2 separate regions of the Homo sapiens genome follow, and region 1 is linked to region 2. The links come from fine-mapping of genetic effects on gene expression. Tissue or cell type: monocytes after R848. Region 2 holds a variant in brackets; the other region holds the start of a gene. All regions are shown on one strand. Distances are between the middles of the regions.

What was found. PIP is the estimated chance that this variant, and not a neighbour inherited with it, causes the effect.
Region 1: WAC starts here. The variant in region 2 is the best candidate, but not a certain one, in a credible set for the expression of WAC in monocytes after R848 (Quach 2016, PIP 0.50).

Annotation. Positions count from the first base shown.
Region 1 is chr10:28,531,339-28,535,569 of GRCh38, forward strand. It overlaps WAC (WW domain containing adaptor with coiled-coil), which reads left to right and starts at 1,780. Exons shown (of 14, transcript NM_016628.5): 1 at 1,780-2,282; 2 at 2,660-2,696; 3 at 4,224-4,231. The coding sequence starts at 2,242. WAC-AS1 (WAC antisense RNA 1) reads right to left here and starts at 1,016. Exons shown (of 3, transcript NR_033805.1): 1 at 397-1,016. RefSeq lists silencers at 1,034-1,453, 1,824-1,973, 2,184-2,263, 2,414-2,523, 2,534-2,783 and enhancers at 1,180-1,863, 1,484-1,673.
Region 2 is chr10:28,401,079-28,405,309 of GRCh38, forward strand. No RefSeq gene overlaps it. Among named protein-coding and RNA genes, the nearest start is that of LINC02652, 93 kb to the right of the region's middle. The variant C/A (reference allele first, on the strand shown) is at 1,862.

The sequences.
Region 1 (4,231 bases), 130 kb after region 2:
AAGATTATGTAATTAAAATTTTTTTTCCAACCAGTTGTGATTTCAGAGCCTTTCTCCCTACATCATTCCATCTCTCCATTCTATTAGGTCTAGCAATAACGTAACTTCTTGGATACCAAGTAAATCAGTTACTTTTTATTTTTTGGAGGGGGTTGTTTCTTCTGACTTGTTTACTATTTGCCTCTTCTGTGTTAATCACCTAATTATGTTTACCACAATTCTTTTCATTAAACTATGTTGCCTTACAAATAGTGCAAAAAAAAAAAAAAAAGTCAACCAATCACCCGAATACCACCACTCTCAACTAACGGTTGTTTGGTATACTTCACGTTTCTTCTCTCAATGTACCTGCAGCAGTACATAAAATCAAATTTGTAGCAATTTCACTTAACACACCTGAGAACTTTCACATGAATTTTCTTTCACCAATGGACTTCAGCGAGGAAGAAACAGAGGAGGGAAAAGTGAGAGATAAAGAGAGGGTGGGCAGGGCACCGCTGGGTATGGAAAACGTTAGAAAGGGATGGAAAACGTTAGAAAGGGGTGAAAAGCCGAGCGCAGTGGCTCACGCCTGTAATCCCAGCACTTTGGGAGGCCGAGGCGGGAGGATCGCTTCAGGCCAGGGGTTCGAGACCAGCCTGGGTAACACAGCGAGACCCTATCTCCGGAAAAACTTTTTTTAAAAAATTAGCCGGGTGTGGTGGTGCATGCCCGTGGTGCCAGCTACTTAGAGGGCTGAGGTGGGATGACCCGTAAGCCCCGGAGGTCGAGGCTGCAGTGAGCCGTGATCGCGTCACTGCACTCAGACTGGACGACAGCGCGAGACCTGTCTCAAAAAAAAATAACAAGGGGTAGGGTGGGGCAGTGAGATGGTTCAGCGTTGTTCCCAAGGAACTCATCTCCCTAAATTTCCAGTCTCAAGCGCCGCTTTCATTCCCTGCCCCGAGCGGCGCTCCCCGCTCCGTGCACGCATCTCCGCTGAGGGCCGCCCTGACGCACGGCCTTCTGCCTTGAACACAGAACCCCTCAGCCCTTCCTATTAGCCGTTTCTGGCCGGGACTGCACGCGCTCCTTCCTGCCTCGGGGCGCAGGGTGAGACTTACGTCTAAAGGGCGCCCGGCGAGCTCGCAGCAGCCCCTGCCCCGCGGAGGGCCGGTGGCGCGCGGCGTCCGGTGAGGGGCAGCGGCCCGGGCTCGGTTCCGGCTTCCAGCAGCGGCCCGAAGGCGCCGGAGCACGCTCCCCGCTCCCCAGAACGCAGCTTCCGCGGCTGCAGCCCAGGCAGCTCTTCGGGAAGCGTCCGCCCGTGGTCTCGCCAGGGGGTTTCCGACCTCCCCGCCCGACAGCGCAGGGGCGGGGGCCGCGGCCGGAGAGCTCGCCCGAGAGCACCCCCTCCCGCTGCGCCTCTGGGCGCACGCGCAGCCGCTGCAGCCTCCCTTATTTAGTCCGCGATGGCTTCCCTCGCGCCCCACCGTCCTCTTCCGGAAGGCGGCTCCCTCCCTGCGCAGCCCGGAGCCCCTGAGATCAGCCTCGAGCAGGCGCCCGAGCGAGACTATCCCTAAACGGGAACGGCGGTGGCCGACTCGCGAGTGAGGAAAAGAAGGAAAGGGCAGACTGGTCGCGAAGAGAAGATCCAGGCCTCAGAGGAGGAGAAAGGCCGGAGCCAGCCGAGGTTTGCCGAGGGCGGTGTTCCGGACCCGCGCGGTGCGGGGAGGAAGGCCGAGGGTGGGAGAGGAGGGGCCCGGCGGAAACTGCCGAGGTTTCCCGAAGGCGGCAGCGTCCGAGTTGCCCGGATGTAGTTGGTGGAGCGGCAGCGGCGGCACCAGCGGCGGCGGCGGCGGCGGGAGGAGGAGGAGGAGAAGAAGGACCAGGCGGCGGCAGCAGCGGCGGCGGCGGGGGGAGGAGGGGAGGAGGCGGCGGAGCAGGAGGAGGAGAAGGCGGAGGAGGCAGTCGCTCTCCGCGGGGCTGAGCCGGACGCGTCGTCTTGCCCCCCTCCCCCCGGTTCGCGGTGCCGCCGTGTAGTTGGCGCCGCTGCCCCGGCTGAGAGTGAGCGTGGTGTCGACGGAGGGAGATGGCCCGGGAGCGCCGGCGCCAGTAACTGGGAGCTGATGAGAGTCGCCGAGGGCGCGCCGGGCCCAGGTGCCGGGGCTGCCCGCCGCCCGCCGCCGCCGCCGCCTGCGCGCCCGCCCGCCTTTCGCGGCCGCTCTCCCCCCTCCCCGACACACACTCACAGGCCGGGCATTGATGGTAATGTATGCGAGGAAACAGCAGAGACTCAGTGATGGGTAAATTGTCTTTTCGTTTCGGGCCGGGCGGCGGCGGGGGGCGGCGGCGGGGGGGCTGTTCCTCCTTATCTGGAGCTGGCCGGGCCGCCATTTTTGTTGTTAACCCTGATCCGGATCGGGTTGGGGAGGAGGAGCGGCCGCGCGGGCGGGCGGGCGGGAACGCAGTGTGGCGGGGAGCGGGGGCCCGGCTTCGCGGCATTTCGCCCTCTCCGGCCCTTCCGGAGGCTCCGGGTTTGTGCCGTGTGCGTGCGGGGCTCGGCGCTGGGGCGCTCGGTAGGTCTCCCGCGGGGAGGGGCGGCGGGGGCCCCGTTTTCTTCCTCCCCGGCCCCCCACCCGCGCCGTGTCTTATGTCGCTGCCTTCTCTTCCTGTTTTTCAGCTGTCACGACCGGAGGGGGGACTCGCAGCCTTACCAGGTACCAGCCGAGGCCGGGGTGGAGGGATTGGAAGGGGCCGGAGGGGGAAGGGAGGGACTGCTACTCGAGCGCAGGCCTCAGAAGTCGATACAGGCCCTTCGGTGCAACACATCTGAAACTAGCACCGCGGATCCCCTTAAAATTCCAGGTTTGGTTCCTTTAGCGCTCTCCAGCAAGGTTTAGTGACTTATTTTGACAGGTGACTGGAGGGAGTTCGCTGATTTAGGAAAAAAGAATCATTTGCAGCCAGAAAGACCTGACTCGATTATTTGATTATTTGCGAGTGAAGGAATCGATGGGATGAGATGATAGGTGACTTACGAGGCTTATTTATTTATTTATTGTGTTGGGGGAACTGAAAAGTTAATGTAAAGGTATTAAAATTAAGTGAAGAACTTGGGTAAATAGCTAAATGACTTACAACTTTCAAGTCGGTTATAAAGTACTACCCTTTCCCCTTTTAATATTTTTGGTATACTTAATTGCCTTACAAGTAAAAGATATGTGTGCTTTTGTTTCTGTAAGAATTGAGGTCTTTGGGTACTTGGATAATCATTCTGATGTAGGTGGTTCTAGGTAGGTGGGTTCCTTTTTGTTACTGCAGTCATTGTGTGTGAAGTTCTAAGGATTATGATGAAAGTGGCCCCAATTTTCAGGAGGGAAACCTCATAATGATTGTTAACCATCAGATGACTGCAGAAAACACTTTCTACATCTTAAAGGACTAGAGAGCAGGTTTCTAACCTGATGGTTGTGTTATACAGCTGAATTTGAAAACACTGTCTTCTGATATGTAAAACATTGGATATGTCAAAAATTAAACTTTACTGAATCTGTCCTCCAAAGCATAGCTGATTACACATTGCAACAGATTAGTACATCATGATTGTCTTAAGATATGTGTTAGAATAAAGCTAAACGATTATTTTGAGCGCATTATGCTTAGTTAGAAATAGTACTCACATTAGTTTATTTTGGTTAGTATTTTTATACCTTAAAATTGTTTCCCACACCTGGGAGAGTAAGGAAGTTAGGTCTGAAATGCTTTATTTGAATCAAAGAATTGGAGAAACTGGTGTGTGGGTTTTTTTTTTTTTTTTTGGTAGGTTTGCAAAAATATGCATGTGCTTATTTATACATGTGTTTGTGTATATCAGCTGTAGAGCAGAAATTGATTATAGTAGTACTGAATTTCTAGTTTTCTTTTGACTATCAAAAAATGATTCTAAATATTCTCAGCCAAATTTTTTTATTTTTTGCAGAATCAGTGTGCAAGGTGGTTTATAAGATAATGGAGTGGGTTTTTTTTGTGTTTAGTGTGATTTGTTATCAGGAGTCTTATTGTAACGCTTAAGCATTAGGTTTTTTGTCTGAGAAACTTTAAAGAGTAAAGCAGAATTGAAAGTGGAAATTTTAATTTTGTAAGTTCATAAAATTTAATGATAATACACCAAAGTTTATGTTTAAATTAGGGAGTTTAAGGTTTCAATTCTTTCTCTCTTTTTTTGGGGGGGTGATGTTTTACAGGCACTTAA
Region 2 (4,231 bases):
AGGCTGTGCATCCCTGGAGGCTTTAGGGGAGAATGCATTTCTTGCCTTTTCCAGCTTCTAGAGCTGCACTCCTTGGCTGATGGCCCCTTCCTCCATCTCCAAGGCCAGCATCTGCAAATCTCCCTCTGTTCCAGCTCCACATCATCTTCTCCTCTTCTGTGGAGTCTGAGTTCTGTCTCCCTCTCATAAGAACACTTCTGCTTGTATTTAGTGTCCACCCAGGTAATCCAGGATCATCTCCCCATTTCAAGCACTTCACAGCTGCAAAGTCTCTTTTGCTATATACGGTAACATTCACAGATTCCAGAGATTGAGACCTGGATTTTTGGGGGACCATCAGTCAGCCTTTCCAGGAGGTAACATGAGGGAGACAGGCACAGCATTTCTGACAGGAGGGAAAGCATAAGAGGGCACAGTGGCATGACTCAGTACAGAGCATCCAGAATCTGTGTCGCTTAGAGTTGTGGGAGCATCAGGTATGAGGCGGTGGGGATGAACCAGGCTGCAGAGGGTGTCATGCTCCATGCTAAATCATCTGGGTTTTATTTCATAGGTTCCAAGGAGTCTTGGAAGGTTTGTAAGCAGGGCAGTGATGTGGTCAGCTGAGTGGTTTAGAGGGATCATTGTGGGGGATTCAGGCAGGCAGATACCACTGACAGATCATGAGAGTCAGAACCAGGATGGGGATTAAGGTGAGAAATGTGTTAAATAACAAAAGAAGTTCTCCAGGTGAAATTAACAGGAATCATCACTAATTGGATGGTAGGGTGAAGGGGAGAGAGAAATCTGGGATGATCCCAAGCTTTTTTCCTGGGTAGATAGTGTCCCATTAAATGTAATAAGTACAGGAGAAAAAAAAAATATGCTCAAGGAAGGAAAAACTGGCATTTAGTTTGAGTCTGTAGAATTTGAAGATTACTTGTGGGCAGGATTGGCTTCGTGGGTGTGTGACTTGTGCAGGCACACAGGGCCCCACACTTAGGAGAGGCCCCCAACTTAGCTAATGCTCTGCTATCACCATCTTGAAAGTCTTAGTAGTTTTTGAATAAAGGGCACCATATTTTTATTGTTCACCTGGTCCCACAAATTATCAAGTAGTTTCTGCCTGTGAGTGATCTAAGAATCCAGGCAAGAGCCTCGGTCTTCAGAGGAAGTTTTCAGCAGAGGTTCCCTTAAGCAGACATGAGGACTAAGCACCTCCTGGATAGACTATTAACTCTCTCCTGGGCTGCAGCAGCTCAGAGCTTTCTCAATTAACCACTTCAAGTGCAACAGTATGTGCCATAAGAGAAAGCCGCATATCCCGAATTAAAGGGCTCTTGATCAAAATTTAATAAACAAAAAAGGCCTTGATTTGGGCTTTTTTCCCAGCAGCCTCAGCTCTGATGTGAACAAAAGTTAAATACCTGAGTCTGAGGGCTTTTTATGTGAGTAACTTTGGTGTGCAGAGGAGCTAATTCTTACAGAACTTGTTAATTTCCCTAGACTGAATACTAACACCTCCCAAGATGACAGGAGAACAGAAATTCACATTCAGAGGTGAAGAGCGCTAGATTTATCTTGATGTGAAACTGGAAAGTTCCTAGAATAAGGGGAAGAGGTACTTTTTCTGTTCCCTACTGTATTAGTTCATTCTCACGCTGCTAATAAAGACATATCCAAGACTGGGTCATTTATAAAGGAAAGAGGTTTAATTGACTCACAGTTCAGCATAGCTGGGGAGGCCTCAGGAAATTTACAGTCATGGCAGAAGGGGAAGCAAACACGTCTTTCTTCATATGGTTGCAGCAAGGAGAAGTGTAGAGAAAAGGGGAGGAAAGCCCCTTTTCAAACCATCAGATCTCCTGAGAACTCACTATCA[C/A]GAGAACAGCACGGGGGTAACCACCTGCATGATTCAATTACCTCCCACCGGGGGGATTATGGGAACTACAATTCAAGATGAGATTCAGGTGGAGACGCAGCCAAACCAAATCAGCTACTCCACCCTAGGTTGCTGGCTCCTCAGCCCTCCTTACTCTTACAGCAGTTGGTAAACTAAGTTTGCCTTTCTTTGCAAAGTCAGGCTTTCTGGCATTCTCAGAGTAAGTCCTAGCAGATGAGCACCCCTGCTTTAAAAGGGCAATGATGGGCCTGACACAGTGGCCCATGCCTGGAATCCCAGTGCTTTGCAAGGCTGAAGTGGGAGGATCACTTCATCCCAGGAGTGGGAGGCTGCAGTGAGCTGTGATTGGGCTGCTGCCCAAGAGACAGCTAATAGTCTAACCAGGAGATGCTGAGTCCATGTTTCTGCTTAAGGGAAAACTTTCTTTGAAGACCAGGGCTCTTAGCTGCACGCCAGCCTGGCAATAGAATGAGAACCTGTATCTAGGAGGAAAAAAAAAAAAGAAAGCGAAAGAAAAAGGTTGATGCCTAAGTATCCAGCCCCATTTCTGCTTTACTTTGATATTAAAATACATTTCAGGGCCGGGGGCAGTGGTTCATCCCTGTAATCCCAGTAGTTTGGGAGGCCGAGGTGGGCGGATCACCTGAGGTCAGGAGTTTGAGACCAGCCTGGCCAATAGGGCAAAACCCTGTCTATACTAAAAATACAAAAATTAGCTGCGCATGGTGGTGCGTGCCTGTAATCCCAGCTATTCAGGAGGCTGAGGCCGAAGAATCGCTTGAACCCGGGAGGCAGAGGTTGCAGTGAGCTGAGATCAAGCCACTGCACTCTAGCCTGGGAAACAGAGCAAGACTCCGTCTCAAAATAAATAAATAAATTAATTAATTAATTTAATTAAATACATTTCAGACTCTTTTCCAGCTTTGAAATTATGGGCTCATGGTTTTGGTTCTGATCCAGCCTTAATTAATTTTCTGGACTTGATCTTCTGCCTTCTGCACGTGCTCCAGCCAGCCCCACTGGATGCTCCAGTTTGCAGTTTGAGTGAGATGATGCCAAGGGATGGAAACATAAGGGACCCATGAGACCACAGAATGTTCTTGTGGCCACCGAGCTTCAGGTCCCACTCTAGCCTTCCAGGTCCAGAAATGCTACAGAGTGAACTCAAACTCAAAATTCACAGATACATAAAACAGAAAGAGAATTTACCGAAACAGTAGAGAGAGAGAGAAAGAAACAAATTATTTTCTAAACACTGGGATTCTGGCCTCATCTGACTTCTTCTGGATATCAGGATACGTAGGACACTAAACTATTTTTTAGAAAGTTGCTTAGGGCCGGGCAGGGTGGCTCACACCTATAATCCCTTGGGAGGCCAACGTGGGCAGTCACTTGAGGCCAGAAGTTTGAGACCAGCCTGGCCCACATGGTGAAACTCCATCTCAACTAAAAATACAAACATTAACCAGGCGTAGTGGTGTGTGCCTGTAATCCCAGCTACTCTGGAGGTTGAAGTAGGAAAATCTCTTGAACCTGGGAGGCAGAGGTGGCAGTGAGCCAAGATCATGCCACTGCACTCCAGCCTGGGCTACAGAGCGAGACTCTGTCTAAAACAAAAAACAAACAACAACAACAAAAAAAAACAGTTGCTTAGAAATCTGGACGTGGTGGCTCATACCTGTAATCCCAGCACTTTGGGAGGTGAGGCAGGAGGATTGCTTGAGCCCAGGAGCTTGAGATCAGCCTGGGCGATATAGTGAGACTTTGTCTCTACAAATAATTATTTTTTAAAAATTAGCCAGGTGTGGTGGCTCACACCTGTGATCCCAGCTACTGTGGAGGCTGAGGTGGGAGGATCACCTTAGTCCAAGAGGCAGAGGTTGCAGTAAGCCAAGATCGTGCCACTGCACTCCAGCCTGGGTGACAAAGTGAGAGCTTGAAGAAAAAAAAAAAAGAAGGAAGGCGGGGGGGTGGGGCGGGGGGAGAGAGAGAGAGAGGAAAGAAAGAGAAAGAAAAGAAAGAAAGAGAGAGAAAGAGAAAGAAAGAACAAGAAAGGAAGAAAAGGAAGGAAGAAGAAAGAAAAAGAAAAGAAAGAAAGAAAGAAAGAAAGAAAGAAAGAAAGAAAGAAAGAGAGAAAGAAAGAAAGAAAAAAAGAAAAGAGAAAGTTGCTTAGAGCAACATGAGATAGTATTTTCTTAAGGGATATTTTATCCAGGCATGGTGACGCTAAAGATTTACTTTTAACCATATGAGAGTAACTAAAATATGGGCATCTGTCAGATTCAAGAACTTTCTTCCGTGAACAATTAGCAGAACCAGTTTCCTAAACCAGTTCATCTTCCTCTTGGA